Regions from separate parts of the Homo sapiens genome. Here region 2 is linked to region 1. The links come from fine-mapping of genetic effects on gene expression. Tissue or cell type: skeletal muscle. Region 1 holds a variant in brackets; the other region holds the start of a gene. All regions are shown on one strand. Distances are between the middles of the regions. Region 1 has its middle 110 kb from the start of TGFBR2. Region 2 holds the start of GADL1 (glutamate decarboxylase like 1).

Region 1 (4,400 bases):
ACTATTTAAAGAAATAATGAGTTAAAACTTTCTAAATTTGATCAATGATATAAATATAAACCTCTAAGGTGAGGGCATGTCAAAAGGACACAGAAGTCAATCTGTGAAAGCTCCCAGTGATCAAACCTGGAACCACCTGAGCATAAAATGAATATCCTCGAGTCCACACTGATATAAGTACAAAATTAAATACATAAATAACTATGGAGAAATGCATGTTTTTCTTACAAAATAATTCCAATTGATAAATGTAAAAGAGATGACAGAAATACAAAGTGGGGCCAGGTGCGGTGGCTGATGCCTGTAATCCCAGCGCTTTGGGAGGCCGAGGCGGGTGGATCATGAGGTCAGGACTTCAAGACCAGCCTGGCCAACATGGTGAAACCCCGTCTCTACTAAAAATACAAAAATTATCTGGGCATGGTGGTGTGTGCCTGTAATCCCAGCTACTCAGGGGGCTGAGGCAGGAGAATTGCTTGAACTGGGACCTGGGAGGAGGAGGTTGCCATAAGCCGAGATCCTGCCACTGCACTCCAGCCTGGGCTACAGAGTGAGATTCCGTCTCAAAAAACAAACAAACAAAAGTTAGCAGTAGAACACCACAGGAATAATTGCAGCTGGCAGCATCCACTGATGACTGCAAAAATTAGTGAGCAAAACTGTAAGGAGAAATAGGATACTTGCATAGCCTTAAAAATCTCCCCTAAAATATTTATTAATTATTGTTAGTGGTTTTACTTTATGTCTACAGATTCTTTTATACTCCTCACTCCAAAAATGGAGCTTAATTCTCCTCCATAAGTAACTCACTTATAAATAATAGTGCATGAAAAGGGAAAAACAGTAAACTTCACAATGGAGAAACCTGCCAGGTACTACCTTAACCAAGTGATCAACATTAACATCATCAGTAATAAGACCAGACACAACCCAGACATCTTAGTCTAAGGCTAATTTTGTCCTACTATTGAGGCAAGGCTTTTTAAAGTATTCTACCCAATGCTTTTCTAAGTATTCTACCCAATGTCTTGTAAATCATGAGGTTTTTCAGCCTGGCTAGTAGAAGGAGGCAATATTACAGGCCCTGTATGAGAACTGGACACTGTTTCCTTAAACCTTCTAAGGGAATTCTTTCTTCAGCCTCAGGTAGTTTTCTTACATGCATGTGCTGATCAGTACTCTGTTGAAGACTCAAGGGAGACTCTCTGCGGATCAGAATTTTCTCTCAATGTAGCTCTTTTCTCTTCAGTAATCTGTCCCAATCCTCTAGCTACCTGGTCTCCCAGTGTTTCAAATCCGTCTCTTTAACTCAAAGAGTCTTCTGAGATCCATCTTGGCTTCTCTTCCTGTGCCACACTTAAAAAACAAACAAAAAACACCTCTCATTCATTAAGCTGGAGCAATCATTGGGTTCACCTCATTAGCTTCCTATTTCTCAGGGATCACTGTCCTTCATTACCTGATGTCCAATGTCTTAAAAACTTATTTAATATATTTTGCCCTGTTGTTTTGTTGTTTCATGTGAAAGAATAAATTTGGTTCCTGCTACTCCATCTTGTAGAAATGGAACACTTTCTTTAAATACTTTAATTCTAGCTTTTACATCTATTATTTTATCACCCAATCCTTTTATCTCTCTGTTCATTTATTTTACTTCTGACAGTTTTCTCAAGTCAATCTTGTGCTTAATTCATCTAAACATCAAATTATTTTATATTTATTCATTTATTATCTATATATCCAACAATCATTGCTAATATCTGCTGTTTCCAGTGCAGAGTTGAATTACAGAAGCACAAAATTATATGCAGGATACATAAGTGATTGAATTAATAAAATAATACTT[C/T]TCAGGATTATTTAAGAAAGAATATTTGGGTAAACGTAAAGCACTATAACATGTTTAAAAAATAACTGTTTATATTTTCTACCCACAACTAAATCTTACCCCCTTTAATCTCTCTCTCTCTTTTTCTGACTCTGTGAGGTCAGTTTATTACTCCCTTTTCTCCCAATATGCTATGGATGTTTTCCATTTCTTTCCTGGTGATTCAGGTTTGTCCTTTAAGTTCGTGAGAAGCCCACAGCAGCTTAAATTGGTTGAGTTTGATGCTCTACTTCACCACTGTAACTTACTCAGGTCAACTCTCTACCAGGAAGCAAACTGATATCTAATCTTTGTGAAACCTAAAATATGCTTGACTCTTGTGATCCGGAATAACTGTGGCTAAGTATTTTTTCCTCGTTTTCAGCATTTAATGGCTGTTTTGGTGAAAAAGAGAGAAAAGGGATTTCATGGGCAATTACTCTTCAAATTAAGAAAAATCATCTGTAAGCAATGAAACTCACAATGGGGTCCAAAGTCACCCAAACATGCAGCTAGTGCTCTTAATTCAGCAAACTCTTTGAAGAATATTCATTGGATTTTTTATTTTGAAGATAAGAACCAAAGGCAACCCATTTAGAGCATCAGGCCTAAGACTTTAAGACATTTAGTTATGATTACAGAAAGCAGCATCACAGAACATTCAGCAACCACGGGATTTGAGAGCTGCAGCAGCAGCAGCATAAATGCCAACCATTGACTTCTAATTACCAGGCGCTTCTTAGAAGACGGCAGTTGGCACAGTGGCTGGTGATCCAGTTTTTCTTCGGTTTTCATATGCAGTAGTAAGTTATGATTGTCAGTGTGTTTCAGTTTTCTGAATTCTATCATATCTCTTTTTGGAAGTTACTTGCTCATCCAAATTCATTCACCACTTGCCTACTTAACTAAGCTTCCTTCCAAATTTCTCTGGTAATGACAATCCTTTTTTCCACTTACCCATAGTCAAAGACTTGCATCAATATTCCACAAATGCCCTTACTCATAATAGTGCACCCTTACTATTGGTCCTTTAGAATAGTGTGATCCACACACATCACGTATATTAAACTGCTGACCTGTGAAGGGGAAGCTTAAACACTGGCTGTAGTGTTCAGGTCAATGACCTTGGTACCAATTTGATCTCTTTCGGAAGTTATGTATTTGTAGCTCTACCAGGCTCTGTTAACTCTTGCTTTACTCTCCATCTTTGGAAATTGGATTTTATTGTTTAGGCTTGGCCTATGCAGCATTCAATCTACTCTTTTCCCAAGATGTAAAGTATAGTGGTGGTCACTGCATTTCAGTTAAAAATCTTATACTTCCTTTTTGGCTTTGGAGAACCCAGACCTGCTGCCAACACTTGACAAACATCCTGACCAAGTCAGCCCCATCCCTAAAAGTACCATGCCTTCAACCTATAATCCAGTCCCTGATCTGTAACTACATACATACACCATAGGCCAGGAGAAGAGCTGTTGTGTGAAACCTATATCTATTAAGATGTTTCCATGATCTTAAAACTCAGACCAATAGAGATTGGAAACACTATGCTAGAGCATAAATATGCAGGATTAATCACGTGACTGTTATTTCACTGATTTAGCTAGCTATAGTAGGGGTGGAACAGGCCTGGGTGCCACACAATTAGTTTATTCATAATCTCTAGGATCTGTTCTTCACCCTTGTTTGTTCACATTAGGAGAAGAGATGCAGAAATTCTCACCTATACCTTATTCAGCTACAACTACATATGGATATCCTGAGCTTGCAGAGAGTAAAGATTTTTAACATTTCCTCACAATTTGCATACCAGATTAGGGCGATATGCAAACCAGCAAGTCACTATAACATGAATGTAAAAGCCCCCCAGAAGCCATTCAGGTTGGATTGCATAGCTCTGCCCTCAAAGATGTGAGAATACCAAAACTGATTCACAGGCTCCAGACAACGGACAGTAAAACACTGATTTGGGGATATTCGTCCCAGAATGAGAAAATTCTCTCCTATAGATCCAAATTAGAGGCCTTAGAGGGGTTTTTGAACACTTGATCTAGTCATTCAACTAAAAATTCAACCCACATGTTAACTTAGATATGAGATGAAAGACATATTTTTCTATTTAGCATGGGTTCTTAAATGCGTCCCAAGAGAGGGGAGTTGAGATAATGACATTTGCTCAAGCATCCATTGCTCATCCTTTTCTGTACCCAGCCCATCAGCAGAAAGGAACCACACCTGCAGAGAGAACAGCTGTGTTTCCATTACGGTTTAACAATCTTCTCATCCCTTCATTTCCGGCAGAGCATGACTTACCCAGAGAAACTTCAAAGCTTTCAAATAACAGAATAAAAATTGTTTAGGACTCACCATCCACATGAACCATAGTTTGAACTATTTGTGTACTACATTGTTATCAGTTAGAATTTCAAATTCCAGAATATTTCAAATGTGAGTCTATATGGTGTCAGTGAGGTGTTAACCGACCCATCTATGATTTGCGAAGTCTTAAGATGGATGAACTCTTGTCATACTCTAT
Region 2 (4,400 bases), 180 kb after region 1:
TTTCAAGTGATAGAGAAAAAACATTATTTGAGTCTGAAGAATCATTCATTTTTAATATAATGAAAATTTGAATCTGATATAACTAATTGCTTAAACCTCTCTTGCATGTACTACAGCAAGATCATAAAAGATATCAAAGCATAAAGAGCAGAATAAGAATTCTTTATCTGCAACAGGATTCCCTATGGTATTCTTCCGTAATGTATAGGTCTGTAACAGATATTCAACAAGAGAATTTAAGACAAGATATCATTTAACATACGAATTCAATGTTACCTTCAGGATCTCATCATACATACTTGGAGGATTACTTAGTCTGACAGATAGTTGTCTTGTACTCTTTTAAGATACCATAGCAAGCATTTGGCATAATTAGGTGTGTTGCTGCCTTATCACCTGCTCAAGGATAACCAGAGAGCAACCCAAGAATTGTGGTGTTTTCAGAAATTCAGATTTAAGGCAAACTTTGAACTTTACTATTTATAAATCATATATTCAGCTACCAAAGCCACCACAAGCTACAGACATGCTTTGTTACAAGGTACATGCTTAATCTAAGAAAAGTAGATACCTTGGTTTTTTTGTTACTGTTTTTAAAAGTTTCTATCATATTTCTGAAGACTATGCTATATGGCTTTAAAACAAGAATTAAGGTTAAAAACAAAACAGCAGGGTTAAGGTCAGATAAAACTATTTTAACCATCCTTCCTTCACATAAAGAAGTCTCCTGTATTATTAGGATTCCTAAATAATCTATACTTTTCAATCCATTCTCAAATAGCCAAATATTTATTTTATTTATTTATTTTTTGAGACAGAGTCTTGCTCTGTCACCTAGGCTGGAGTACAGTGGCGCGAATCTTGGCTCACTGCAGGCTCCGCCTCCCAGGTTCAAGCGATTCTCCTGCCTCAGCCTCTCGAGTACTGGATTACAGGCACCCACCAGCACGCCCGGCTAATTTTTTGTATTTTTAGTAGAGATGGGGTTTCACCATGTTGGCCAGGCTGGTCTCAAACTCCTGACCTCAAGCGATCTGCCCACCTCGGCCTCCCAAAGTGCTGGGATTATAGGCGTGAGCCATCATGCCCAGCCTAACCAAATATTTAAATAAGTATGTGCTGACCCTAGAAACATTAAGAGTCTGACAAAATGCCTTAGCAGTTTTCAGTGTCAGTTGTTTTTCTTCTTTTTAAGTTTTATTGTTTTTAATTGAGACATCATAATTGTACCTGTTTATGGGCTACAATATGATGCTTCAACACATACATACATTGTTTAATGACCAAATCAGGGTAATTACCATACACCTGTCATTTCTTGGTGGTGAGAACACTGAAATCCTCTCTTCTAGCTTTTTTGAAATATACATTATCATTAACTATATTCACCCTACTGTGCAATACAACACTGGAATTTATTCTTACTAACTGCAGCTTTATACCCATTGACCTACCTTTCTACAGCCCTCTCCGCTCCCCAGCCTCTGGTAACCACTATTCTAACTTTCTACTTCTAAGTGCCAGGTTTTATTATGCCATATATAAAAATAATAATGATAGTACAAGTTTTAAAGTTTTTTTAAAAGAGCGTCAGGACAGTTATGCTGGAAACTCTCCCTGGGACATTAAAAGGTGAAATATTTGTTTCAGCCAAATGGTTTCTGCCTCACCAACTACTGTGCAAAATTCCCAGCCCTGAAAATGACTGATCCGCAGGGGACCCCAGCTGAGTTACCTGACCTACCTGTTGAGCAGATGCCCCCAGAGAGCTTCAACTTTGAGACTTCATTAAGCTGTGTTCAGCACAATTCAAAAAAGTTATTGATACAAAGAGGAGTTATTCCTGGAGGATCACTCCTAAAACGCCAACAACTAGTTAGTGAGAATACCTGAATAACAATAATGATAACCTTTCAAAGAAGCAGCAACTATTATTTTACAGAAATAGAACTAAGTGGCACCTGAGTTATAAAGACAGTTTGGAGGAATTCTGCTGCATACGATCTTTAAACAACTAAGGTCCCCGTTCTCAATCTGCAGCTCTGAACCAAAGAACATTAAGGGCATCACCTACTCTGAGATGACGGTGGCCTCTTTTAACCCCTGTTTATAGAATAGCTGGCTGCAGGTGAAAGGACTGAGATGATGCTGTCCTTGTCCCCCAGAAAGAAGCAAAATCATCTTTTTTACAGGGCAGGTACTTCCAATCTAACTAGGGAAACATGCGGCAGTTCGCCAAGCAGTAAAATCTCAATACGCATTTATTTAACAAACGCCCGTTATGTCTTAGGCGCGGTTCTTCGCGCTTTATAAAAGTTAACTCATTTGATTCTAAATAATAACCTTTTAGGTACGGAAAACGGAGAAAAAATCCATGAAGATGGGGACTTTCTACCCACCCCAGCCGCTTTACAAAGAAATAACCAAACTTCTAGTCCCCAGGTCAAAAATAAGGAGATTAAAACCCAGACAGGGGAGGTTAAGGACAAAAACCGCAGCCGCGCTGAGTCGTTACCGTCCACAGGACACTGGCGGTCCGAGTCGCTGCTCATCTCCGCTCCCCCACTCCAGGCTGCCCCGGGCGCGGCTCCCGCAGTCTGGGCGGCGACGGTGGTTGCCGAGGCAGCGCCCCCCGGGGGACCCGCAGGTGCACCAGGCAGCCGCGGAGAGAACACCAGTGCAAACGGAGGGACGAGGACGCGCGCGCTCCGTGCTCCTTTCACTTTGCTATCCAAGGCTCCAGTGCCAGGCTTTTGCAGCCCGCGGCTCTCTGTTAATATTTGGAGCGCTGCTGGCTGCTTTGCCACAGGCTTGACCCAGGGCCAGGGTCTCTCCGCCTTTGCGGGGAAGGGGTGGGGAAGTGTGTAGGAGCGTGGGTAATTTGGGTAGGAAAAGGCAGGGAGCACCCTACCAGCCCTCCTAGGATACAGGCTGGGCAAGGCAGATAAGTGGCTCTTGGCCTGGTGACCTTTCCAGCGTCCAGTTCTTTGGAGTAACCACTTCGCAGAGCCTCATCCAGCCGGAGGAGCCCCAGGCTAAATATGATGCCTGCACCAGGTCATCAGCTGAAGGAACCTATTTTAGGGCAGCTGTGGTGAACAGGATCCACTACCCATTCATTCAGCTCTGCCCTGACATTTAAGAGTTCTATAAGTGAATCCCTTTTCCCAGTCCACTTTCAACTTTGTGTGTGTGTGTGTGTGTGTGCCTCTGCAAAATTTTAAGTTTGGAAAAGGGAAATGGTAGGGGGTGCTGGGCATGTTGTTACCTTATAGTAATGAGCAAAAGGAGGTGGTAAAAGGTGAAATGTTGTAAAAGGCTCAATATTTGTCTAGTCTTTAGAGTAAAATTTTCTCCCTGTGTTTGCTCCAGCAAGCCCTTGGAATTTTAGTTTCAGTCACGTTCCTATTGTAAATTTAAATTTAATTAGTGAATGCGGCATTTTTGTCATTCCTCCAACAGGCTTTATGTTTAAAGTTAAATTCCCTTAGGAGCTTTTAACTGAGGCTGTCGATGGGATAGAAACAATCAGTTAATGCCATTTCAAAGCACATTTATGACAACTACATTTACGGAGCTGCATTTGTAATCCAGATCTCAATGGACTAAAAAAAAGAAAATCGCTTTACATTTGCAAATGCCTAGTGTCACTTCTTAGCAGGTGAATTTTTTTCCTCTGGCAAGCATAATTATAGTTCACATCGGTGAAGACAGGGCAGACCTTTCTTCCAAATAAGAATAGATTATTTCTAATATACCAACAACCAGAGTTACTAAAGTCAAGACCCTGCAGATAAATTTCAGAAAGACTGTGTAAGTTTCTGAGAACCCCACATACTCTTTTGTATCCAGTCTCAGCAGAAATATCACTGAGATCTAGTGATGAAAACGTAAATAACACTAGGAGTTAATCTTCTGTAACTCTATTAAAATATACTGAAAGAAGTGCAGTCGTGTGTTGATTAATGATGGGGATACATTCTGAGAATGCATATCGAGGCGATCCATCATGCGAACATCCTAGAGTGTATTTACACAAACCTAGATGGTAAATTCCACAACACACTTAGGCTACATGGTATAGTCTATTGCTCCCAGACTGCAAACCTGTACAGCATGTCACTGCACTGATTAGTGTAGGCAATTGTAAGACAATGGTAAATAACTGTGTATCTAAACATAGAAAAGATACAGCAAAATTATGGTATAAAAGATAAAATAACATGTTACATCTGCATAGGGCACTTACCGTGATTGGAGCTTGTAGGATTGGAGGTTGCTCTGAGTAAGGCAGGCAGTATTAAGTGAGAATGAAAGCCCTAGGAAATTACTGTACACTACTGTAGACTTCATAAACACTGTACCTTTAGGCCATACTAAATGTATTAAAATATTTTCCT

Evidence for each region. PIP is the estimated chance that this variant, and not a neighbour inherited with it, causes the effect.
Region 2: it holds the start of GADL1, and the variant in region 1 is fine-mapped to the expression of GADL1 in skeletal muscle (GTEx, PIP 0.99).

The regions. Positions count from the first base shown.
Region 1 is chr3:30,715,618-30,720,017 of GRCh38, forward strand. No RefSeq gene overlaps it. Among named protein-coding and RNA genes, the nearest start is that of TGFBR2, 110 kb to the left of the region's middle. The variant C/T (reference allele first, on the strand shown) is at 1,847.
Region 2 is chr3:30,892,063-30,896,462 of GRCh38, forward strand. It overlaps GADL1 (glutamate decarboxylase like 1), which reads right to left and starts at 2,599. Exons shown (of 15, transcript NM_207359.3): 1 at 2,516-2,599. The coding sequence starts at 2,552.